Homo sapiens: one gene and its partners. The protein of the gene in region 2 interacts with the protein of the main gene of each other region in a pairwise test. Each region holds a gene or a part of one and is shown on either strand. Other genes may lie near its edges. The genes, in order: POGZ, ZNF410, FAM9B and POU6F2.

Evidence for each region.
Region 1: the proteins of ZNF410 (region 2) and POGZ interact in binary tests that used the Homo sapiens proteins (3 or more experiments, as listed by UniProt).
Region 3: the proteins of ZNF410 (region 2) and FAM9B interact in binary tests that used the Homo sapiens proteins (3 or more experiments, as listed by UniProt).
Region 4: the proteins of ZNF410 (region 2) and POU6F2 interact in binary tests that used the Homo sapiens proteins (3 or more experiments, as listed by UniProt).

What each region holds. Positions count from the first base shown.
Region 1 is NC_000001.11:151,449,488-151,456,520, reverse strand, and holds part of POGZ (pogo transposable element with ZNF domain), read left to right. Parts: intron 1-1,618; exon of another isoform or gene 1,619-2,494; intron 2,495-5,572; exon of another isoform or gene 5,573-5,611; intron 5,612-7,033. UniProt on the Homo sapiens protein: Plays a role in mitotic cell cycle progression and is involved in kinetochore assembly and mitotic sister chromatid cohesion.
Region 2 is NC_000014.9:73,917,859-73,924,891, forward strand, and holds part of ZNF410 (zinc finger protein 410), read left to right. Parts: intron 1-3,121; coding exon 3,122-3,247; intron 3,248-4,207; coding exon 4,208-4,348; intron 4,349-4,840; exon of another isoform or gene 4,841-4,878; intron 4,879-5,536; coding exon 5,537-5,664; intron 5,665-6,843; coding exon of another isoform or gene 6,844-6,945; exon of another isoform or gene 6,946-6,961; intron 6,962-7,033. UniProt on the Homo sapiens protein: Transcription factor that binds to the sequence motif 5'-CATCCCATAATA-3', and is specifically required to silence expression of fetal hemoglobin in adult erythroid cells.
Region 3 is NC_000023.11:9,024,118-9,031,150, reverse strand, and holds the end of FAM9B (protein FAM9B), read left to right. Parts: intron 1-554; coding exon of another isoform or gene 555-583; exon of another isoform or gene 584-790; coding exon 791-890; intron 891-1,732; coding exon 1,733-1,844; intron 1,845-3,184; coding exon 3,185-3,283; intron 3,284-5,567; coding exon 5,568-5,636; 3' UTR 5,637-5,667; intron 5,668-5,773; 3' UTR 5,774-6,919; downstream 6,920-7,033. UniProt on the Homo sapiens protein: May play a role in meiosis.
Region 4 is NC_000007.14:39,463,894-39,469,119, forward strand, and holds the end of POU6F2 (POU domain, class 6, transcription factor 2), read left to right. Parts: intron 1-288; coding exon 289-793; 3' UTR 794-4,708; downstream 4,709-5,226. UniProt on the Homo sapiens protein: Probable transcription factor likely to be involved in early steps in the differentiation of amacrine and ganglion cells. Recognizes and binds to the DNA sequence 5'-ATGCAAAT-3'. Isoform 1 does not bind DNA.

The DNA of each region.
Region 1 (7,033 bases), on a different chromosome or scaffold from region 2:
AATGGCTTATTTCATGGAGTAGCATTTTTACTTGAAAGAACGACTAGCAGACTATGGTTTTTCACACTTAGTATTTGGCAGATATTTCTTGAAAATGAAGTGAGCTTGTCACTTTTAGGAAAACAACTGACAGTATTTATTACCAGTGATAAAATTTGGGTGAAAATTAGAATTTTTAAAAAGTTGACAGCTGGAGTTTGACAGCTTCCTAGTACTTAAAAGACTTTCCTTATGATATCAGTGGTTAAGGACTGCAATATTTTAAAATGTTGTTTAATGAAATATGTTATTTGGAAGATGGGCATAACTCAGTAAATCTAGGCTTTGCAAATGACCAATGCATGATGTTGCAAAATCAAGCAAAGGCAAAAGATCCTTTGAAAATTCCAGACATAGCAATGGATTTTAACAGTAAAAAAGTGGATTGATGTGGTTTCAGATTCCAAAATGTTAACTGTCCTTTAAGAAACTACTATTTGGCCTAGCGTGGTGGCTCACTCCTGTAATCCCAGCACTTTGGGAGGCCAAGGTGGAAGGATTGTGTGAGCCCAGGAGTTGGAGTTGAGCCTGGTCAGCATAGTGAGACCCTGTCTCTATTTATTAAAAAAAAAAAAAAAAAAAAAAAAGAAAGAAACTACCGTTTGTTGAGTTTTAGTATTTACCAAACACAGTTATCTGAAAAGGTTATTAAAATACTTCTCCCTTTTCCGACTAGATTTTCATTATATACTTAACCAAAGCTACATATAGCAACAGACTGAATGCAGAAGTAACTGTGAGAATCCAACCATCTTTTATCAAGTTAGACATAAAAGAGATTTGCAAAATGCAAAACAACGTTACTTTTCTCACTTTTTGGAGGGAAAGTATTTTTTGTTGAAATGTTATTTATGTTAACTTATAATGGGCTTGTCTTAAAATACATTGATAAATACTACATTTTAAAAATTTGTGGTAAATGTGGAAAGATAAAATTCACATAAACAAAAGATCTTTGGCGTCTTCAATAATTTTAAGAGTCAAAAAAATGAGAATCATTCAGTCAGTCCTATGTTTCTGCTCTTTACATCATTCAAATCTAACTCCCTTGGGGAACTTGGGAGAATTTATAAATAGTTGAAGTTGATGGAAGAGGCAGTGACCTGGGGAAGAATTCTAAAGCAAAAAAAGCTTGCTTTGAATCCTAACTGGGATATTTACTAACTGTAACCTTGAGGAAGTTACTTCGTCTCTCTAAACCACTGTTTTGACCTTATCTGTAAAATAAAAACTTTAGAGCTGGTTGATTACAAATCCTAGAGCTGGTTAATGCCTTTGCCATAATATCAATATGGTAACATTTTGATAGATTCTTTGGTATTCTTGTTTGTGATATTAAGCCATATTCACAAAAACTTGTCTTTTTTTTTTTTTTGAGATGGAGTCTCGCTCTATTGCCCAGGCTGGAGCGTAATGGCGCAATCTCGGCTCACTGCACCCTCCGCCTCCTGGGTTCAAGCGATTCTCCTCCTTCAGCTTCCTCAGTAGCTGGGATTACAGGCACGCGCCACCACACCTGGGTAATTTTTGTATTTTTCTAGAGATGGGGTTTCACCATATTGATCAGGCTGGTCTCAAACTCCTGACCTCTTGATCGACCCGCCTTGGCCTCCCAAAGTGCTGGGATTACAGGCGTGAGCCACCACGCCCAACTGAAAAACGTATTTTTATATGTAACCAAGGGGAGGAGAGCAGAAAAGAGACACTAACCTATTGCTAGGTGTTAGCAGAGTTAAAAGAAATTGAAAGCATAGAAATGGAATTTAGGCAACACACAGCTGTCATTGAAGAAAAGTTTTCCATCATAGTATAGATATTTTTCTTGGGAAAGGGACTCCTGAATATTGAACCCCTTTAAAGAAGAGAACTTGTTGCTTACTTGTTTTAGTAAAGAGCACAGAACTAAATATTTGGGTGTTTCTTGATACAGGATTGGCTACCAGACAAGAGGAAAGTATTTTGAGTTTGGAAATTTTAGGTTATTAAGACTACTTAAAACCCTTATGATTCTTACATATGAGGTACTATAACAGATGTTGTGAGGGACAAAATGGGCTGTGCAAAAGACTGGATAAATAAAAGCTTATTACATGTTTAACTATAGTTTTATACACAGATTAAGTATTCAGCCCTATAGGTTTTCTGGTATTAGTCCTTTTTAGAGCCAAAAATTGAGGTAACTTGAAAACATAATTACCAGTTATGTTGAGGATTATCATTGTTTATTTTTCACCCTGGAACAAGAAAGTGGTATTCTTAAAATGTTTGTTTTCTGTAAAATATTTTTCCTGTTCCAAATGTTCTTTTTATGTTGATTTTTGGGCAGGTATGTACTGGCAGTAAGTTGAAAACGTTAGATACCAAATTCTTCATTTCTGAATTCTTCATTCTTCATTTCTGGACTTTACAGCTATGAAAGAACAAGACAAAGGAATTCAGAGCTTTCAAGAACCAAGTATGTCAGGATAGTTGTGGAAAACAGATCTTTTTCTCATTTTCTTTGAGATGAAGATAGGCAACATTTGCTGCCCATTAAATACCTTAAAAGTATACAGGTGTATCTGCAGGATTCTTTTTGCTGCTTTTAAATAGTATATTGTTTTAAAAGGTCTGTTTTTATCTTGCCTTTACAATTATATAGACTTTTATTGACTAGCTGATCATATAGGGCCTTAGTATAGACTACCATATTCGCCAGCATTTAAGAAATAGTCCCCTTCCCTCCAGGAGAGTATTTATCTGGTACTCCCATATTATGGATTGAAGGATGAGACAAGAGACTGAGTATTGCTAATAGTTCTGTGTGAGCCTGCAGTGTTAAGTAAAACCTATTGAGTGCACAAAAAAATCATGTTACAATTACTACAAAATAGAGAAACCACCTAGGTTACCAAGATGTCAAATAATGGATTAATGGAAGAAAGTAATGTACCTCCTTGGTAGCCTACATAATCCACCTTAATTTGTTATTTCTTATTTAACTATTTTGCTATGTCTTAAGAAATGTATATTAAGTGAAAATGGATGCATAAAAATAAAAAAAGAGAAATGTATATATACAAGCTACATGAAAATTGGTCCTGGGAATAAATCAAGAAATTCAACCAACAAGGCTACCAGTTATTTAGTAAATACCAAAGAGATAGGTGGAATGTAGCAGTACAGAATATCACAGCTAAGATATGAGTAGGTAGTTCCACTCCCTCCTACCCCACCTCAGTTTTTATTAAGAAAATTTCACGCATGCGAAAAGGGAGAAAGAGGCTGGGCGCAGTGGCTCACACCTGTAACCGAAGCACTTTGGGAGGCCAAGATGGGCGGATCACAAGGTCAGGAGTTCAAGACCAGCCTGACCAACATGGTGAAACCTGTCTCTACTAAAAATACAAAAATTAGCTGGGCGTTGTGGCGCATGCATGTAATCCCAGCTACTCAGGAGGCTGAGGCAGGAAAATCACTTGAACCTGGGAGGTGGAGGTTGCAGTGAGCCAAGATCACTCCAGCCTGGGCAACTGAGCGAGACTCCATCACAAAAAGAAGAAAAAAGAAAAGGGTGAAAGAATTCTACAAGGAACACTTAAACTATCCACCACCTAGACAGAGTGACTTTTTTTTTTTAAGACAGAGTCTCGCTCTGTTGCCTAGACTAGAGTGCAGTGGCACAATCTTGGCTCACTGCAACCTCTGCCTCCCGAATTCAAGCGATTATCCTGCCTCAGCCTTCCGAGTAGCTGGGACTGCAGGCACCAGCCACCACGCATGGCTAATTTTTGTATTTTTAGTAGAGACGGGGTTTCACTGTGTTGGCCAGGCTGGTCTCGAACTCCTGTCCTTGTGATCCGCCTGCATTGGCCTCCCAAAGTGCTGGGATTACAGGCGTGAGCCACTGCGCCTGGTGACAGGATGATTTTTAATGTTTTGGCCCATGCCAAATATTTTTTGAAAGTTGGCATACTAGTATCTATAAGAAAATATCAAAATAGCCCACCTGTAGTGACAACTACTTGGGAGGCTGAGGCAGGAGGATCACCTGAGCCCAGGAGGTTGAGGCTGCAATAAGCCGTGATTGTGCCACTGCACTCCAGCCTGGGGGATAGAATGACACCCTGTCTCAAAAAAAAAAGCCAAATATCTATGTATTTGCTTAACCCCTTGAAAGTCACTTTCAAGATATTTCTATTAAATATTTTGTGCATTTCCTAGGAATAAATACATTCTCCTACATGAATATAATATGATTATCCTTTCTGTTTAAAAATTTTTTAGAGGGATCGGTTCTGTTTCCCAGATTGGTCTTGAACTCCTGACCTTAAGCAATCCTACCACCTTGGCCTGCCACCATGCCCGGCCAACATTGACTTTTTTTTTTTTTTTTTTTTTTTTTGAGACGGAGTCTTGCTCTTGTTGCCCAGGCTGGAGTGCAATTGCACCATCTCGGCTCACTGCAACCTCCACCTCCCGGGTTCAAGCAATTCTCCTGTCTCAGCCTCCTGAGTAGCTGGGATTACAGGTGCCCACCACCACGCCCGGCTAATTTTTGTATTTTTAGTAGAGACTGGGTTTCATCATATTGGTCAGGCTGGTCTCGAACTCCTGATCTGAGGTGATCCACCTGCCTTGGCCTCCCAAAGTGCTGGGATTACAGGCGTGAGCCACCGCGTCCAGCCGAACATTGACATTTTTAAAGAGACTTCTATTAGTTTTATAGAATGTTCCATATTCTGCATTTGATTATTTCCTTCTAGAATGTCCCACCTTCTGGATTTATCTCATTATTTCTTTGTGGTGATACTTAATTTGTTCTTTTATTGCTGTATTTCTTGTAAACGCAAAGTTACATTTAAATAATGGATTTGGGCCAGGCGCGGTGCCTCACACCTGTAATCCCAGCACTTTGGGAGACTGAGGCGGGTGGATCACCTGAGGTCAGGAGTTGAAGACCAGCCTGACCAACATGATGAAACCCCATCTCTACTAAAAGTACAAAATGAGCCAGGCATGGTAACGCATGCCTGTAATTACAGCTCCTTGAGAGGCTGAAGCAAGAGAATCGCTTGCACCCAGGAGGTGAAGGTTGCAGTGAGCTGAGATCGCGCCATTGGGCTCCAGCCTGGGCAACAAGAGTGAAACTCCATCTCAAAAAATTTAAAAAAAAATAAAATAAATAAATAATTGATTTGATTCAGGTTAAATATTATTGTCAGTAATACTTCATACATTGTTTTTGGCTTTTCTTGTGTATTTGTTTGCAAAAAAATGCCATAGACAAAACAGCTGATAACTAATGTGAATTATTAGTCAGTAGTTTATTGGTTAATGTTTTTCTTTTTTCTTTCCCTTTGAGGCAGTCTCCTGTCTCAGCCTCCTGAATAGCTGGGATTACAGGCGTGTGCCACCACACCTGGCTAATTTTTGTATTTTTTTTTTTTAGTAGAGACGGGGTTTCACCACATCTCTGGTCATGGTCATGGCCAGGCTGGTTTTGAACTCCTGACCTCAAGTGATCCACCCACCTCGGCCTCCCAAAGTGCTGGGATTACAGGCGTGAGCCACTGCACCGGTCCTGGCTAAGGTTTTTCTATTTAAACATATTACAATCATAACCTTTGGCTTTTGAGATACAGAGCTACTGTAACTTTTAAGTTCAACCATAAATAAGATTTTTGAGGAAGAACATAGAAATAGGTTTCCATTTTGTCACTTTGAGGCATTGCCCTCTGCAAAAATGATTTGAAAGTTGAAGAAGCTAGAAGAGTTTATATGTAGCAAAAGTAACCTGTAGAGGAATTGTAAAGGGGCCACAACAAGAAAAAATTTAGAACTGGGGAGGCTGGGCACGACTGCTCATGCCTGTAAAACCCAGCACTTTGGGAGACCAAGGCAAGCAGATCACTTGAGTCCTGAAGTTCAAGACCAGCCTGGGCAATATGGCAAAACTCTAGCTTTATAGAAAATACAAAAATTAACCAGGCGTGGTAGCACATGCCTGTAGTCCCAGCTACTTGGGAGGCTGAGACGGGAGGATTGCTTGAGCCCAAGAGGTCGAGGCTGCAGTGAGTTGAGATCGCGCCACTGCACTACAGCCCAGGCGACAAAGACCCTGTGACCTAAAAGTTGTCAGATGAATATGAAGATAAAATCAAGTTCCTGGCTGGGTGCTGTGGCTCATACTTGTAATCCCAGCACTTTGGGGAGGCCAAGGCAGGTGGATCACCTGAGGTCAGGAGTTCAAGACCAGCCTGGCCAATATGGTGAAAACCCATCTCTACTAAAAATACAAAAACTAGCCAGCCGTGGTGGTGGGCACCTGTAGTCCCAGCTACTTGGGAGACTGAAACAGGAGAATTACTTGTACCCGGTAGGCGGAGGTTGCAGTGAGCCGAGATCGTGCCTCTGCGCTGCAGCCTGGGTGACAGAGCAAGACTCCGTCTCAAAAAAAAAAAAAAAAAAAAAAAAAATCAAGTTTCACAGGTAGGTGATTATAGGATGAAACAGACTAGATATATATGGATTTTATAAAAAAATTTTTAACATACAAGATATAACCATTTGAATAATTCATAAGAACCTTGTTCTGCTCTCTTGCAGAGTTTTTGAGACGGAGTCTCGCACTGTCTCCCAGGCTGGAGTGCAGTGGTGCAGTCTGCAAGCTGCATCTCCCAGGTTCATGCCATTCTCCTGCCCCAGCCTCCCGAGTAGCTGGGATTACAGGCGGCCGCCACCACGCCTGGCTAATTTTTTGTATTTTTAATAGAGACGGGGTTTCACCGTGTTAGCCAGGATGGTCTTGATCTCCTGACCTCGTGATCCGCCCACCTCGGCCTCCCAAAGTGCTGGGATTACAGGCGTGAGCCACTGTGCCTGGCCTGAGAGGACAAATATTTTTAAAAAGAAATGATAGTTCTTTATGTATAGAATGTGGGATGATTTTTTTTTAATTGCCCTCGTTTTCAGAACATGTATTCAGTTTGATCAGTGATTTTCAGTCTTGGCA
Region 2 (7,033 bases):
TTTTAGTAGTAATATAATTATCCCTTGTTATCTGTGGTGTATAGGTTCCAGGACCCCACAGATACCAAAATCCACAAATACTCAAGTCTCTTACATAAAATGGCATGGTATTTGCATATAACCTACACATATCCTCCCATATGCTTTAAATCATCTCTAGATTACTGATAGTACCTAATACAACGTAAATGCTATGTGAATAGTTATGCTATATTGGTTATTTGTATTTTTTATTGCTATATTGTTATTTTTTATTTATTTATTTTTTTAGATGGAGTCTCGCTCTGTTGCCCAGGCTGGAGTGCAGTGGTCCACGATCTTGGCTCAATGAAACTTCCACCTCCTGGGTTCAAGTGATGCTCCTGCCTCAGCCTCCCAAGTAGCTGAGATTACAGGCATGTGCCTGGCTAATTTTTATATTTTTAGTAGAGACAGGGTTTCACCATGTTGGCCAGGTCTTGGAACTCCTGACCTCAAGTGATCTACCTGCCTTGGCCTCCCAAAGTACTAGGATTACAGGCATGAGCCACTGCGCCTGGCCTGTTATTTTTTATTTTTATTTTTTCTGAATATTTTTTATCTGCTTGGTTGAATCAATGGATGTGGATGGCCAACTATATATTCATAGTTTTACAGTTTTCTCTACTGTCCGACTCCACAACATTTCATCATCCCAAAAAGGATCCCCATATCCAGGAGATGATTAAAAAAAGAAAAAGAAGTCCCATTATTAGTATCATTGACCATGTCTCTCTTTCTCCAGCCCCTGGCAACCATTAATCTGCTTTCTGTGTCTGGATTTGCCTGTTCTGGACATTTCATATGGCCTTTTTTTTTTTTTTTTTTTTTTTTTTTTCCCCTAAACGGAGTCTTGCTGTCTCCCAGGCTGGAGTGCAGTGGCGTGATGTCGGCTCACTGCAAGCTCTGCCTCCTCGGTTCACGCCATTCTTCTGCCTCAGCGTACCGAGTAGCTGGGACTACAGGCGCCCGCCACCACGCCCGGCTACCTTTTTGTATTTTTAGTAGAGATGGGGTTTCACCGTGTTAGCCAGGATGGTCTTGATCTCCTGACCTCGTGATCCTCCCGCCTCAGCCTCCCAAAGTGCCTGGATTACAGGAGTAAGCCACCGTGCCCGGCCTTTTTTTTTTTTTTTTTTTTTTTTTTTTTTGACAGAGTCTCACTCTGGCTCAGGCTAGAGTGCAGTGGCATGATCTTGGCTCACTGCAACTTCCACCTCCTGGGTTCAAGCAATTCTCCTGCCTCAACCTCCCAAGCAGCTGGGATTATATGCGCCCGCCACCACGCCTAGCTAATTTTTGTAGAGATGCGGTTTCACTATGTTGGCCGGGCTGGTCTTGATCTCCTGACCTCAAGTAATCTGCCCGCCTCGGCCTCCCAAAGTGCTGGGATTACATGTGTGAACCACTGCACCTGGCTAAAATAAATTTATTTTAGATTCAGGGGGTACATGTGCAGGTTTGTTACAAGGGTATATTCCAAGATGCTGAAGTTTGGGCTACTAATGACCCTGTTGACCAAGCAGTGAACATAGTACCTGATAGGTAGTTTTTCAGCCCTTGCCCCGTAGCCGCTTTTGGAATCCCCAGTGTTTATTGTTCCCATCTTTGTGTCCATAAGTACCCAGTGTTTAGCTCCCGCTTATAAGTGAGAACATGGTGTTTGATTTTCTGTTTCTGTGTTAATTTGCTTAAGATAATGGCCTCCAGCTGCATCCATGTTGCTGCAGAGGACATGATTTTGTTCTTTTTTATGGCTGCATAGTATTTCATGGTGTGTATGTGCCACATTTTCTGTATCGTATTTACCATTGATGGGCACCTGGGTTGATTCCATGTCTTTGCTGTTGTGAATAGTGCTGCATTGAACATGTGAGGGCAAGTGTCTTTTTGGTAGAGCAGTTTATTTTCCTTTGGGTAGATAGCCAGTAATGGGATTGCTGGTTCAAATGGTGATTCAGTTTTTAGTTCTAAGCTTTGTAATATTCCACCCTGTTTCTATTGTATAGGTTTTTTTTTTTTTTTTTTTTTTTTTGCTATGCAGGACTACTGCAGTATCTATAGCTTTTTAGTCAGTCTCTGTGATGAATATTTACGTTGTTTCCAGTATTTAGCCATTTAAAATAATGTTGCCGTGATGAATAACCTTGTGCACAGAGTATTTCACATTTTGCTGCTGTAATTTTGGGACATATTCCTAGAAGTGGGATTCCTAGGTCAAAGGGCAAGTGCATCTACAATTTTTCTAGATCTGGTCAGATTCCCCCAAAGAGGTTTTTGTATTTTGCATTCCCAGCAAAATACAATCAGCAATGATGATTGCTGTACCATGTGTTTGTCAATTGTGAATTTGTTCCTAGCATTTAGAAATTGGGAGATTCTACTTAAAAATCCTTATTTCCAGTGTCTTAAAAAAAAATCAGAGAATCTGCCTTAATCTACCCATGGCAACAGTTGGCTAGAGCTGAATAACAGCTGCCCCTTTTCTAGGTACTCTCTAGGTTACTGCAGCCCCCACTTGGCCATTTTACTTACTTTTGCTACCTATCAGTCTCCTATAGACATGAGTTTTTGACCCCTGCTCTAAGTATGGTTTTCTGGGTAGGTAGAATGGAGACGGAGAGTTTGGGACTTGAAGACATAGAGGACAATTTAGATTATTATGTTGTAAGAGCCACCAGTGTGAATGTTGATGACCCTAAAGAGGGTGGCAGGGAATATGACAAGGGGATATTAGGAACACAGGATTGAAATCCTTGAGGAAAGCACATGTCCTAGAGGTCCATGGAAGACTAACTGAAAAAGAAGGCATATTTTTTGTGGTTGCCATGGTCCTATACCAAAGAGGTTTTGTGAAGGCAGCATTACAGAAGGTCTGGAAAGGACCAGCAGCTGGGAGCAGGGAGTGTGCTAAAGCCCTCCTGGTGTACTCTTCCTGCCTTCCCCCATATACTGAAGTTTGAGAGGCTGGGAAGGTGCGGAATGGGAAAAGGAGCAGCTGCTTATGTTCAGTTTAACATTCTCTGGGTTTCTCCATCTAGGTCTTGAGTTCATTCTCTTCCTGTCCTTTTGGCTTCCTTGTTTAACCTGGTCCCTGTTTCAGGAGAGAAGCCTCATCAGTGCCAAGTCTGTGGGAAGACCTTCTCTCAGAGTGGAAGCAGGAATGTGCATATGAGAAAGCATCACCTGCAGCTGGGAGCAGCTGGGAGTCAAGAGCAGGAGCAAACTGGTGAGGAGGGTGGGCATAGTGGAACGCTGTACTACTTCTAGGGTTCCAAGAGCCAAATCACTGTCCTGCCTGCTTATCTGGAAATTTTCTGATTCTGTTTTGGGTAGATAGACCTGGTCTCATTTGATGGGCTGATGGTTTCCAAACATAGCTATACAGTAGAATCATCTGCAACCTTTTAAAATTTATATACTTTTTGTTGCTTGTCCGCCCACCAATAAAACAAAGCAATCTGATAAATGAGATAATTTGCAAGATCCTAGAATCTGTAGTTTTAAAAGTTTCCCTAGTGAGTTTGATGGTAACTAGTGCTGATCCATGAACAAGCATTTGAGTAACACAGTGATAAAAGATTTCCACATGGGAAGAGTTTAAGCTTTTTAATTTTTTTAGATGGAGTCTTGCTTTGTCACCCAGGCTGGAGTGCAGTGGCGCCATCTCGACTCACTGCAACCTCTGCCTCCTGGGTTCAAGCAGTTTTCCTGCCTCAGCCTCTTGAGTAGCTGGGATTATAGGCAGGTGCCACCACACCTGGCTGATTTTTATATTTTTGTAGAGACGGGGTTTCACCATGTTGGCCAGGCTGGAAGCATATTTTATTTACCAGTCATGACTACCTTTTTGCCCTGCCTGAAATTTGATAACTCTTTTTAATTCTTATTCCTTCGCCATATCTTTCCTTAATTATTCCAAATATTCCTTTCTAAAGATCCACCTATCCTGTTTCATATGCTAATTCTTCAGACGCTGAACACAAGCAAGGATCATTATCTTCTAAGGCTTACTCTTTCCCTTCTAGGTTTATTCTTGTTTCTCGAAAGTAGGTGAAATAGGGGGTGGCATCCCATCTATAGGTTAACTTCTAGTAATGAAAGAGAAGGCCAGCTTCTGTTGAAAGAAAATGAGGACCAGGCACAGCCTTGATTGCTGTATGTCTCTCACAACCTATTCTCTGTGCAGCTGAGCCACTAATGGGCAGTAGTTTGCTTGAAGAGGCTTCAGTACCCAGTAAAAACCTGGTGTCTATGAATTCCCAGCCCAGCCTTGGTGGAGAGTCCTTGAACCTACCAAATACCAATTCTATCCTGGGAGTTGATGATGGTAAGACTTCCAACTCTCCTTTATTTGGGAAAAATGGGCTGCAACTAGGGGCTAAGGAATGGGGTGTCTCCACAATGTATGTTTAAATCTCATTTCTTATGAGTAGCTGTGGTATGAGTAGCATTTGTGTTCTTATTCTCTGGGGTGGATTAGTCAATCTGTTTAAAAAAAAATTTTTTTTCATTGAAGATAATATAATAAAAGAATAAAAAGAAAAAATTCTTAAGAAAAAATTATTCCTAATCCTAGCATCCTAGCCCAACTATTTCTATCTTTCCTATTGCAGTTATGGAAGAACTTAACTTTTAGAACATTTAAACAGAACATAACCAGGTTTTACAGAGGAGATATAAAGCAATTTCTCCATACCTTCAAAAGCCATATCTTCTGGAGAAAAGAAAGGGCTCTCTAGGAAACACTTGCTCCTCTCTGGTATAGAAATTTCACCCAAGTTACACAGGCCAGGCCCTCTTCTCTGAAAAACTTAACAGGTGAGGTCAGCATGCATTTATTCAGTGCCTACTGTGTGCCTGGCACCATGGGAAAGACAAAAGTAGAAGATAGGGACCTTAAAATCCAGTTGAGAAGTGAAAGCTTACATATATATGGGAAAGAACATTGAGTACATAAAAGATAGTATATAAGCCAACATTAAATTATATGGTACAGCATAAAATAGTTGTATAATCTAGAAAACCCCTAGAAGAAACTTCTAGTTTTTTGAGGGCTAAGTGGTATATCCATAAACTATTTCCAGAAGATTTTCATGGTGATCCCACTGATGAACATTTAGTAACTGTGAGACCCTATGTTTTTGTTACTCATATCATATTCAGTTAGTAAGTGCTATTAGTATCATTGGCGACTGCTTTTAAGGGTGGCTTTGGTTCCCTTACCTGCTTGCCTAAGACTTTTGCCTGTTTCATACATAGTTTTAATTCAGTTAAAAGTGCTAACACCATATTATTCTAAATCCTGTATTAAGATTTCTTGCCTTTCTATTCTCTTTTTATATTACTTTCCAAATTCACTGATAATGCTTATCAGACAGGATTAACTTGGAAGAAATAGAGGAATGTGGGAAATAGAGGAATAGAGTTTTAGAGTTGTTAATGAGAGGCTTAATGATCCAGATAGGTGTATCTCTGGATTCACTTTTCATTGAAACATTTTTCTGTTGCTTCACAGAGGTGCTTGCTGAAGGATCCCCACGTTCCCTGTCTTCAGTGCCTGATGTGACACATCACCTGGTGACCATGCAGTCAGGGAGGCAATCATATGAAGTTTCTGTCTTAACTGCAGTAAATCCACAAGAGGTAAAGTGGTCTCTTGCCCTTTGTTTCTGTGACAATTCATGTGGGGAATGATTGAGAATTTAGAGGACCTGAAAAAGTCTCCAGTTTCCATTTCCTGGAAACTTTGGCACGAATATTTTCCTTTAAATTAAGCATGAGTTCAGCTTGAAAGGAGCCTGAGGGTTAGGGTCTTAATGAATTGGAGATTGGTCTGTCACAGCTGGGACTCCCGGCTTTAAAGTTCTTTTATATACATTCCTTGTTGATGTCTGTTCCCACTATTCTCTGCCACACTATAACATGATACAGCTTTTATTTTATAAAAGCACACAGCAGGCACTGAATAAATGCATGTTGACCTCACCTGTTAAGTTATTCAGAGAAGAGGGCCTGGCCTGTGTAAATTGGGTGAAATTTCTGTACCAGACAGGAGCAAGTATTTCCTAGAGATCCCTTTCTTTTCTCCAGAAATAACATCCTGGAAAAAGTCCCTCAGCAAAAAAGGTAGTAACAAAATCATTAAACATAATTATTGTTCATTCTGCTATGGTCATATGTCTGGGAGATACCAGGCTTAACCAAATGGGCATATACAGATTTGTTCACTTGCTTGCTAAGTGAGAACCATTACCTAAATCAATGGTCTCCAGCCTTTTTGGCACCAGGGACCGGTTTCGTTTCACCTCAGGTCATCAGGCATTAGATTCTGATAAGGAGTGCGCAACCTAGATCCCTCAAATACACAGTTCACAATAGGGTTTGCGCTCCTATGAGAATCTGTTGCTGCTGCTGATCTGACAGGAGAGGTGGAGCTCAGGTGGTAATGCTTGCTCACCTGCTGCTCACCTCCTGCTGTGTGGCCTGGTTCCTAACAGGGCACGGACCAGTGCTGGTCCATGGCCTGGGGGTTGGTGACTTCTGATCTAAACAAAAAGGGTTTGAGGTTGAGCTAAAGCACTTTCAACTCTGTAGTTTGGCTTTGACTCAGGAAACAGAATGCAAAGTGGTCAGTGTTTTAAAATCTTGGGATATTTCACTGGTCTTGTGTCATGGGAGTGGATGACTTCATCACGAGCACATTTCATATGCATAAACTTTTGTCAAAACCTCTGTAGCTTGGATCCTTTCAGTATTACATTAGTTTTTATGGTGCTCTTCCGTCTTTTCTCCTCTTTTCTTTTCTTTTTTTTTTTGAGACAGAGTCTCGCTCCGTTGCCCAGGCTGGAGTGCAGTGGTGCGTTCTCGGCTCACTGCAACCTCTGCCTCCCAGGTTCAAGCGATTCTCCTGCCTCAGCCTCCTGAGTAGCTGCTACTACAGGTGCGTGCCACCACGCCCAGCTAATTTTTTTGTATTTTTAGTAGAGACAGGGTTTCACCATGTTGGCCAGGA
Region 3 (7,033 bases), on a different chromosome or scaffold from region 2:
ATTGGGCATTATAGATGGAGACTGTATGTAAAAAATATTTGCATTGTGGTACAAATCTTTTATGATTGCTGAAAATTATTCTTAGCAATTGATGGTAGAGCTCTGATGTGAAATCATGTTTAGGAAAGCATTCCTTGCAGTATTACAGTTTTCTGAAACACAGCACTATGGGTACAAATGTCATAAAAAGCTCCAAGAAAACATTTCAAAAGTGTTTTTGAATGTATTTCTTTACCTAAACCTAAATTTTTATACTCATGGCCATTGCTTCTTTTATTAAAATACAGTTAATAGCATCAATCACTAGATTGCTTAAAAATGCTTTTCTTATTGTGCATTAAGTTATTTCTACCCTTTTGAGGGTTCTATTATATAAGATACTTTTTTGTGTGCTTTACGTAATGAATTGTGCAGTATTTCATGGAAGCATCTCCTTTGAATTGTAGGACATTTTATAAATGTAGAAATTAAAGTCTGTGCTTATAACTCTTTCTGCACATTTAAAAAATAGAGACTTTTAATTATTTGCTTTTTTTCATCATCTGTCAATTAAGTGATTTTCAGTTATACCAACTGGAATTGAAATGCGAATGTTAATACCTGAAAGGTTTTACAGAAAATAAGTGAGTAAATCTTGCTTTTTGAAATGATCTTTGCATTTTATATTTTAAATATCCTTCTGAAATTGCTGAACCATAAAGTCCCATATTGATGTCAGTATATGCAAAGAAACTACTTTTCAACATTAACTTTTAATCCATTTTCATTTACTATCTAACTGACATTAAAGAGGATCTTACTGCAAAAAGAAAAAGGATGAAAATGGATAAAACTTGCAGCAAAACAAAGAACAAAAGTAAACATGCTTTGAGAAAAAAGCAACTTAAAAGGTATGACTGTTGGCTTTTTTGCATAATGATATTTATATCATTTCTTTGTATTAGTTGGTGCAAATAATTTCAAAAACTATCCTGTACATATTGGCGTCTCTAGTGAACAACATATTTTACTTGATTGTTCTCTAAGTAGGTAAGTTTCTTTAGTTTTATAACCTCAGTTTAACAGAATTAAGAGATATTACCTAGAAGCCAATGAAGATGACCTCTTTTTGCCTTCCAGATAAAAATAGCCTTCTTGTAAAATTAATGTTTATCCATTTCTAGAAATATGGTAGCTGCATATAAGATAAATGTTCTCAATGTTTAGTCTGTAGATCCTTAACGATACTCAATTATGTAGAAAGGGATAACCTTATGTTGTAAATAAGTTATCTATTTTAGTTAAATTGTTTTCACTATTTCTTTTACAAAATCATTGGTGTGCCAAAGTGGAGAAATAGTTAAGTGAAGTTTTTCTTTTGGGAAATCTTATGGGATGAATGGCTATGATATTCTTGAACCTACTTATGAGAACCCATATGTTATTCAGTAAGAGGAAATGGAAAGTAAACTGCTCTTAGAGAAAATGTTTCTGGGAAAGTTATAGTGCAGTAAACCCTCCTTTGTCTTCAGCAGGTAAAGAATGTAAGATAGCTGCTCTAGTAGTCAGGAAGAAAAGAATCCTTTCAAAATGAGAGTAACTCATTTCACTTTTTTCCAAAAAGAAGATTTCAGCTGCTATTACTCCCTTGCTACTTTATAGTATAAATTATGTCAAGTCAGTTTGGGTTTGAATAGGATTAATTTTTCATCTCTCTATGACGTATGACCGTGTTACTTATTATGTGTTACAGGCAGAAACGTGATTATATACATTCTCTGAAGTTGCTAAATGTCCTTGAAGAATACATCACAGACGAGCAGAAAGAGGAAGAAGAAGAAGAGGGAGAAGAGGAAGAACTAATTGTTGGTATCATGCTTAGCTTTATGTATAACCTGTTATGTCAGTGTCTCAGGTAGTAATAGTTCATGCAGAAATCCAGCAAAGAAGGAAGAGCGCATGAGCCCAGAGAGGGGGGCCCGTTAGTGGACTAATGGACTAGGGGAATATAATTGCCACGCAGCATTAGGGGTCCAACTGAAGTCAGCATCATAACGATGAAGAAGTTAAAGTAAGCCCAGTTGGCATATTTGTGCAAGCACAGCTGTAGGGTTGGAATTTCCTGGGTCGGGGTGTAGCCGAGCAGATTGATAGAGGGAGAGTTGGGCAGGGAATAGATGCAGAGATGGGGATATGATGACTGGCTGTGGAATTTCAGCTGGGACTGAGTTATCTGAGCACACGGGAGTGGGCAATGGGCAGTAAAAAGTGCTCCATTCAGTGGGTGTCAGGTCCCAACAGACTCCTGAGCTGTAGTACTGAAGTGAGTGACCTACGATGGCAGGGAGGTAGTGGCTGTATGTTGGGAAGTTGGAGAAACAGCTGAGTGCAGTGGTCAAGGGCTGGGACTATGCATCCACACTGCTTGGGATTCTAGCTTGACCATTGCTAGCTCGGAAACCATGGAAAAATTATTTATCTCAGCTTGACCATTGCTAGCTCGGAAACCATGGGCAAATTATCTTATCTACGAAAGGAGACATGGTAAGAGTACCTACGTCAGAGTTGTTTGGAGGATCAAAGGGTTTCTGTGTAACAGGTTTATTTAAGTTTTTCAGGATGTGATCTGACCCATGGTTGCTCTTTATCATTGCTATTATTAATATTACGTAGGTGTTGAAGTCATTGGGAATGACAAAATCTAGGGGATGACTGTGTGAGTGAGTGCCACGTAGAGGAGAGGAGAACACTGTTGTTGGAGATTAGGTCAGGGTGCAGAAAGGCAATCATTATTGGGTGGTTCATCTATGTGCATATTGAAATGACCGAGATTTAATACATGCTTAAAATCTTAGAAAGAATTTTTCTTAGTTAATTTCTGTATAGATCTTACCTATCTGTGGTCAACAAATTATAGGAAGGTTCATCAAATACTCTTCATTGGAAATCAAGAATTAGGACATATGTGTTGAATGTGTAAAAGTAAGAAAATTCTTTACTTAATGACTGATAAAAAAGGTTAATACATCATTTTAGCATGTTATTGGTGAACACAATTGTTTAAAATTGGTCCTAAATGTTGTCTAAAAGAAAGTGTTCAGAGGTATTGATTTAAACAGTATTCCTTTAAAGCTAATGCAGAATTATGTTTTGTAAGTATTAAAATTTACCCAATTTTTATCACTATTTTGTTTTGGGATTCTAGAGAATATTTCAAGAACAACAGAAGAAGTGGCAACAATATAGAAGTGTTAGGAGAGAGAGGCTGAAAGAGATGAAGCTGCTACGTGACCAATTCGTAAAGGTCTGTTCTATTTGGTAACATAATACATTATAAAATACAACACGTGCATAATAGAAGACAGTCTGCTTGTTTCTGAATGTATGGAAAGACATTTGATTATACATTTCAAATTACTTAGCATTTTCACTTTGAATGTATTGTTCCAGATATAATATAATTGGTAAATGTATTTTTAGGATTCATGAATAGTTTGTGGGAGTTATTTAGAACAGGAAAAGGTAAATTGGAAATTTTACCTAGAAATACACATCTTATGTATAAAATTGACACTTTATTAACACATTAACCTATTTATGCCAGAGGTTGCAAATTTTTTTTGTGTGTGAAAAATCAGACCTTGGCCATGACCTTGAGCAGTAGGATATATATGATTCCCACAAGCTTAGCGTTCCAATAATGGAACACTAGGCATAAATGGGTTTTAATGAAGATTTTATTTTCAGTTTTCAGGACATCAATGACAAATCTATGGTGGAAGGCAAGAGGTCCATAAATCCTTTCTGGATGGCTTTTTTACTTGTGTTGTTTCAAGAGTTTTAGTTAAATAGGAAGTAGGCAAGCGTAACTACTGTGTGTCTTTTTTATTTCTTGCTGAAACACAGGAGTGTTTTATGGCATATTCACTTACAAAATTATTAGTAATGGTTCTACATGACAATTTGTAATCATAAGAGATGGTTCAGATGTATAACAGAATGGGAAAGCCAGCAGATTATTAACACGTTGTGAATTGCGAATTATCTGCTGTTGTACAGCACATTAGCAAATTATCATCAGACAATGACCTCTTCTTCATGTAGATGTAGATAATTTAGGAAGCAGTGGAATCTTTTTTGGGGAGATCTGGTATTCTTTTTAATAACCTTGGAAAAGACATGTTCATATGTCACTTCTCTACACTAACTGAGATGTGTTAAATAAACTGGGAAAAGAGTTTGAAAATAAAATTTTCAAGCAACTTGAGGATTATCTATACACAAACAGTTATTTAAATAGAAGTTACAAGTAGAGAACATGTTGCTATAATGTTCTCCAGATACCATTTATTAATTGGTATGAACATGAGACTAGTAGTTTTCCTGTCAGTATTAATGTTTCATGTTACCACTTAGGTTAGGAACTTTGCTATCATCTTGGACTCTTCTGAGTTCATTATCCTTCCCATGTAGTTATCACGAGGCAAGTTTTACCTCTGCAATGGTCCTTTAATTTCTTTCTTTAAATTCCCACTGCGGCTACCCTAGTCCAAGACCTCATTCTTCCTTACCTGTACTATTAAACTCTTTTCTGAGTTCTCTCTTCTCTTCTGAGCCATCCTTCATTGATTGGCAATATTATCTTTCTAAAACCCTTCCCTTCCTAAAATGCTTCCCAGCCCTTCCGTCTTCCCAGCCTGTCAGTGATGCCCCGTCTCAGTTCTTAGATATTCAGAGACTCTCCCCTTTACATGACCCCCTCTTAGGCTTGTTTTGCCGCCTTCTGTCTTTCCTCCCACTTCTCCAGGTTGACCGCCTTCCCTGAAGGAACTCACCGTTACTCCCATGCTTTGCTCATGCTCTTCCCTCACAATACTTTTAAAATCTTTTTTTGACTGATTGAAACCTTTCGCCAACTAAATCAACATCAGTCTCCATTTTTGGCTACATGCCCGAGTGAGTTGCCCTTCCATAGCAGTTACACAAGTTTTGTATTACTTGTTTTTTATTTGTGCATTTGCTCATGTCATAGAAATACGGAAGATTGTGTATTCATTTTTTACATCTTCCTCAGCATTAACCTACAACATTTTAGGGAGTAGGAACTGTTGAACTATTTGTTGAGTAAAGAGTATATATTTCAAACACAGTTACGTTTTCTCTAACTTGATGAGGTCATATCACCAACCATTTTATCCCTTCAATGGAAACCATGTTATGTAGGCTATTGCTGATAATACATGGGTCGCTACCTGCTGAAAAAAAATATAATATTTCATGATATAAGCCTGCCCGTCTTTTTCTGTCTTCGCTCCATCTTGACCTTAAGATGTTCTTCAACCCATTTTATTTAAGCAAAGTACATGACTGTTAGACCTGCTAAAATAATATGTCACTGAAATCTGGCATTAAAAAATTTAATTGGGTATTTGGAGCTCCATGTATTGATTATAGTTTTTTCTATTTGAAATGAATAACTGGCATCCTTTGAATATTAAAAGCTGTTTCCTTTTGACATTTAATTAACCCTGTTTAAAATGCGAGATATAAAGTGGTGGTTTGTCAGTGAACTAGACTTTTTCTTTTAGGCTCTTGAGGACTTTGAAGACCTTTGTGACAGAGTTTTTTCCGATGAAGACAGTGAACTTGATAACTAGACATGTTTTTAAATAAAATCATGTCAGAACTGTAAGTAGTGCATATTTAATATTAAAAACTCAGGATTGATGTAGCACTGGAATATTTTATTTGCAGAAATGTGTATTACAGTTACTTAAATTTTTTTTTGAAACAGCTTTTGGAAAAGTTGGCACTTACCCAGTTGTCTCTTCAACCTCTGTTATTCTGATGACTGAAGAAAGAACTTGAACCTATGTTATATGATACAAGCACAACTTGAGCTACAGTAAACTACATGACAGTGTTTTGATAATTGTTGTATAAATCGGTATAGCTCCTCTGTCACTCGTCTGTTAAATGCCAGACCTCGTTTCTATGATCTGTTGAATGAATCCTAGACACTTCTGTGAGAAAGCAGGGATTGCATAGTTATGTACACGGTCAATTAAATTTTAACATTAAAGATAATTTAGATTTCGATTTGGCCTCTGTGGATTTGTATCAGTTCCAAAAATGTAGAAAGCACAGGCATAGAAAAGTACATTTTTCTCTAATAAAAGAAGACAATATCTGCTGGGTGTGGTGGCTCACGCCTGTAATCCCAGCACTTTGGGAGGCCGAGGGGAGTGGATCACTTGAGGTCAGGAGTTTGAGACCAGCCTGGCCAACATGGTGAAACCCCATCTCTGCTAAAAATACCAAAATTACCCGGGCGTGGTGGCACGCACGTGTAGTTCCAGCTACTCAGGAAGCTGAGGCAGGAGGATCTCTTGAACCCGGGAGTTGGAGGTTGCAGTAAGCCAAGATTGTGCCACTGCACTCCAGCCTGGGCGACAGAGCAAGACTCTTTCTCAGAAAACAAGAAGAAGAAGACAAAAGCTATCTTATCTGTGCGTTCTTTTGTATTTACTCATTAGGATAAAGAGGCAATTCCAATGAAAGTAGGACTTCAAAAAATAGATATACTCTATGGCCATATCAAAATTATTAAAAGCACCTTACTGTCTGTGTTCTTAAAAAAAATTATACTGCTGTAAATGATTAAGGCAACTGAGCAAGATATATTAATATCAGTGCTGAGCCACTGGTTTGTGGGTATGTCATTTCCACAGACATCAAAATGCTATTTAGTTTGTTTTGGTCCATCATTCAATGATACCTCCCCTTAGAATTGAATGAAAGCATTTTGTTAACATTTATGTATGCTTACAATTATTTCACATCTGTGGCAAGGTAAATTTTGTAGAGTGCTTTGTTTATCCAGTTTAATATTCGTGGATTATGTGGAAGTTTATATGGACATCTAAAAACTTGAATGATGAATTCGCCTGCCTTTCCTTTTTTTAATGTGCAGTTTTCACATGTAACAACATATAACAAACATGTAAAAAGATTTTTTGCATGTAACATGTTAAAAAGATGTACATGTTTTTAC
Region 4 (5,226 bases), on a different chromosome or scaffold from region 2:
GGGAAAAGGCCTGTGAGTTGTTTGCATGCCTATGATATGTTATGATAGCTCATGCATCCTGCTGTCTCTGCTTCTCATCACCCCTGTCTGTGCACCTGTGTGGTTTGCATGGTCTGGCATGGAGCACGCTGGGAGGGTGGGCGCTGGCTTGGGCAGGGCTGGCTACCTTGCAGCTGGCTATTAACCTGCAGTAAATTCGCCCTGCCAGGCAGTCAGGCAGGCAGGCAGGAGGCCCACCCTGGCAGAGGACTCAGTGTAAGACTGTTCTTTCTCAATTTTCCCCCCCAGACACACCATCCTGAGAAGCCACTTTTTCCTACCACAGGAAGCCCAAGAGAACACTATAGCTAGCAGTCTGACAGCCAAACTGAACCCTGGCCTTTTGTATCCTGCCAGGTTTGAAAAGCTGGACATCACCCCTAAAAGTGCCCAGAAGATCAAGCCGGTGCTTGAGCGGTGGATGGCTGAGGCTGAGGCCCGCCATCGAGCAGGTATGCAGAACCTGACCGAGTTTATCGGGAGTGAACCATCCAAAAAGCGCAAGCGGCGCACCTCCTTCACACCCCAGGCCCTTGAGATCCTCAATGCCCACTTTGAGAAGAACACACACCCTTCTGGGCAGGAAATGACCGAAATTGCTGAGAAGCTGAACTATGACCGAGAAGTAGTTAGAGTTTGGTTCTGCAATAAGAGGCAAGCCCTGAAGAACACAATTAAACGCTTAAAACAGCACGAGCCGGCCACGGCAGTCCCTTTGGAGCCCTTAACAGACTCTCTGGAAGAAAACTCCTAAAGAGATGCCCACCCATAATCAGAAGCAAAATTCACAGAAACTAAACTCCACCCTTGGGACTCCACAACAACAACAACAACAAAATTTAATTTAATTTAAAAATAGCCCCAGTCGTCATCACCCTTGTAAGTAAATGACTAAGAAAACTACCAAGTGGACAGAATGGTTTCTACATGTCCGTTGGTTTTCCAAAAAGGAAAGAAGAAAATTTTTAGAAAATTTTTAAACAAGGAATACACCACACTGAAGGTGTGTGTGGTAGGATAGTTCCCTTCCCCCACCTGTCTCCCCCAAAGCCAGTTTTTTAATGGACTTAAAGCAAACCAAATAACCACGTACTTTTTTCTGTATATTATGAAAATGTGAACACATTTTAAGGAAAAAGAAAAAAAAAAACTAAACCAAAAACCAACAACGAAGGAACAAAAACTTTGATCTGTTCAAAGCGAATACAAGCCTGCCACCTGGAGGAAGGACTGCACCCCTTCAGGTACTAAGTGCTGATTCACTATGAAACCTATTAACCAAAGTCAGAAACATGGCATTGCAACGCGATCGTTCGTCTACGCTTCTCCGCACGTAAAGTTGTGTTACGAATTTTTACATTTGTACTAACAGAACAATAGGAAGCCTGATTTCTCCCATCTTTCCCATCTACTGTCTCCACCCATGGGGTGGGTACCATTGTTGAAGCCATTCTGTGAGGCTCACTATTGGGTTTTTTTGTGGGGGTGGTAGGGAGGGTGGTCTTTTTTCTTTGTCTTTCTTTTTGACGGGAGGGCATCCTGGATCGTGTGCCAAAGCATTTGTTGCTTTTTTCTCACTATGACTTGTGGGTTTGAGAAAAGAAAATGGAGCTCGCATTTCTCTCTTTTCCTCCATTTCTCCATCTCCCTCGCGCGTGGCTCCTGGGGTCTGCTGGAAGGCCACAGAAGTGGGGAGAAGCAGTGTCTTTTCCACTCAGATCCTAGTGAAATGCAGGAGAGACTCCAAAATAACTAGGGCTTTGCTCGATGAACTGTCAACACTGGCATAAGCTGTAATTGTGCTCACTGTCCACACCAGAGCTTGGGATTTTTCTCAGTCTGTTGGCCACGTACATGGAGAGCTGACCAAAACTAATTTTGTAATATAAACATAAGCTGCACATTTGGTTCAATACTTACATCTATGTTATGCTTCTGTGCAAAGCAATTTCTCTCAGAAGTCTGATAGCCAAAGAAATGTCTCAAGATTTCAGTCAAATACACACATGACATGCACACACCCATAAACACACACACAAAGAAACAGGCTAAAAAGAAAGTGATAGCAACTGGATCATTAAAGGCCATCGTGTATCCTGTTAATCTCATCTTTTCTGCTACTTCTTTCATTCCAATAGCGATGGCAGACTTTTTTCAGGGGGAATAATTACTCTTCGGGATATATAAATGGAGCAGAAAGGTGGCGGGCAAATTTAAACAACTGGAATTGGGGGCCAGGTTCTTCAGGGGAAAGGAAGTTTGAAGAAGCTTTCACCAAAAGAAAAAAATATAGAAGGGGCTTATCTAACAATCAGAATAGCCTGCAATATGAGAACTAGAGGATTATTTCCTTTAAAAAAAATAACTTAAAAGATCTGTGGGCCACAATAACCTAATAAGCAAGGACATGTTGGGATGTGAGGACGGCTGTGCAGGTGAGCACTTGGCAGCTGCCACTGGTGTTTTCACCCAGGTACAGGCAGACGGTGTTCCATTAAAGGAGCAGGCAAAAGAGAGCTGTCAATTTGCTTGCTGTTGAAATGTACATATTTATGCATAATTTATAATCATGCTAATGTATTATCTAGAAGTAAGTTGTGAAAGAAAAAAGAGAAACCCAATCTCAAGTTGCCCAACTGATTAGAAATGCCATCTCCTTCCCCTAATACACTCCCTCTCCCTGGGGAGTTTGAGTTTCTTCTGTTGGCTCCTTTGCTGTTTGTGTAAATGCTACAGTATAATTGTCCCCTCCAATGATTCATGCAGCAATCAAGAGACTACCAGCAAGGAAACTCTAAAAGGAATCCTGGAAGTGGAACAAGTCACTCGTAAAGGTGTTTCCATTTTACCAGTCAATGCTAACTGGACCACAGCTAACTTGATCTTCAATGCCAACATCACAGAGCCCCTTTCGCCACCTCAAAAACTGCACAAACATGGACAACCCAGAAACCCAAAACTTTATTGATTAAAACAGATTTTGGATTCTCCTAGGACCTGCTCCAAATTCCATCAAGAAAAGCTCCCTGCGAAGAGAAGTTAACAAGATAACATATGATGGATGCTAAATATTTAAATATATGCCGGCAGCGGTTACATAAGGCCTGCTCAGTTCTGAGATCTATAATTGGGAGGGTCTAACTAGGACAGGGAAAATATAAAATAAAAGTAATCTTCCAGAGTGGAACAAAAAAGAAATATATTCATCCGACAGTCGTAACACCATTCATGTGCAGTGATTTTTTTATAGTTTTATAATTTTGTATTGTTTTATAAATTATTTATAAGGTGTTGTAATGCTTCTTATATTAATTTTTTACAGATAAATTTTTTGCTACAAGGCATAAAAAGGTGCCTGAACCGATTCTTAGGAATATAAATTATACTGTGTAACTCATAAGTCTTTGGGACCACACCTAATGCTTAATTTTATGATGACATTTCTCATGTCTACTTGTAAACAACTTCATATGCCAATGGCGTTTAAGTGTCTTTTATGTTTCCATGAACTGAAGGTTAAGGTTGCCACCCACAAAAAATAAAAGCCACTTTGGGCATATGTGATTGTATTTCAAGCTTCAGTATTTTTCTCACATAATTTTTAATTATTGTTATCTGCATTTTCATTACTTCATGAAAAAATGACAGTGGATATTACATTTTACACTTGTTTATAGATTTTCTTTCTTTTTCAACCAAGAAAATATTTTGAACAATTGAAACTTTTAATTGCATTTGCAAGGTTTTGGCTTCTTTATGTTGTCATCACACAGATGCACACACACATACACATACAACACAAAAGAGAGAACAAAAAAGCAAAAGGAGCTAGGAAAAAAACAAAACAAAACAAGTAGAGGTGTATCAAAGAACTCAAGCTATAACCAAAAAGAAATCGTAAAATGCCTTTGCTCGTTTCTCTACGCTGGACCAAAGCTCAATATTTGTAGGTATATGCACATTGTATAGATATGGCTAAATGTTGCTGACAATCTCGCAATACTAAACTGTTCCTATTTTAAGAAAAAAAAAAGAAATACAAACTGTTCATCAATGTTTTACCTCAGCACTCTACTTGTACCCAGTTAATGACCAAGCTTAAAAAAAAATTGAGATAAAGGAAATTGATTTTCATTTCAATGTTTGACTGTAAAATCTGTTTGGATAACATTTTGTAATGAGCTTTTTGTCATGTGATTTGCTTGTCTTCAACTTGAAATTATGTGAGGCACATTTGTTTATTTGTTGTTAAGAAAGTGATTTTTTTTTTTTTTTGTCCTATGTGCTGTGATCTAGACTGGTCACCGGGGTCACTTATGAGGCACCACAAAGAGATCTGCTTCTCCGTGCCCGGAGCAGGCAGCAGGAGGGAGGGCAGGAAACAGGACTGGGTTGCTTTGGAAAAATCATCATGACAAGAAGTTGACATGATAGACTTGTGACCAAGAAGCCAAACTGAATATTTAAAAGCTCCTTACTTGCTCTGACATTGAAACCAAAGCTGATTTTATCTGCACAGGTTGCTTAATATTTAAAAAAAAAAAAAACTGTACTTAATCTAGAGCAATATCTGTATGGTCAGTAAAGCTGCACTTTGTGTATTTCTTAACAGCTTCAGATCTGTCACTTTTAATTTGTACCATAAAAAATAAATAATTGTTTGACATGAGCTTCTAGGCTAAGTGTGTCTCACACTCAGATATGTCATTTAAGTTGTCAGCATTTTAAAAACTGTACATTAAAACCCCAAATGTTAAGGAAAGGAAGGGGTTCAAGACAGATTGGTTAATATCATGATTATTTTAACTTTTCAAATGACATATTGTATTCATTGGGACTCTTTTGGTTGCAAGTTATAGGAATTCAACTGAAACTTGCCTACACATAAAGGTACTGTGTTGTTTGACTTAATGGGAAGTTCCGTTGTGGACCTGAAGCACAGCTGGATTCAGTGGTTTCAAAGATGTCATCAGCCTGTCCTGCTTGGCTTCCTTCTCAGATGGATTCTCTAACCATTGACTCTAAGGCTTTGAATCATTGCGCCCTTCTCTAAACTAAGCACTGGTGCTGCGGGGTGATGCACATAAATTCATGGTCACAGGCTCATTCCTGTCTGTGGGGGGAGGGTGGGGCCTCACTCTGACGACCCTGTGGGACCACAAGGATTGAAAGAGGAGTACACATAAG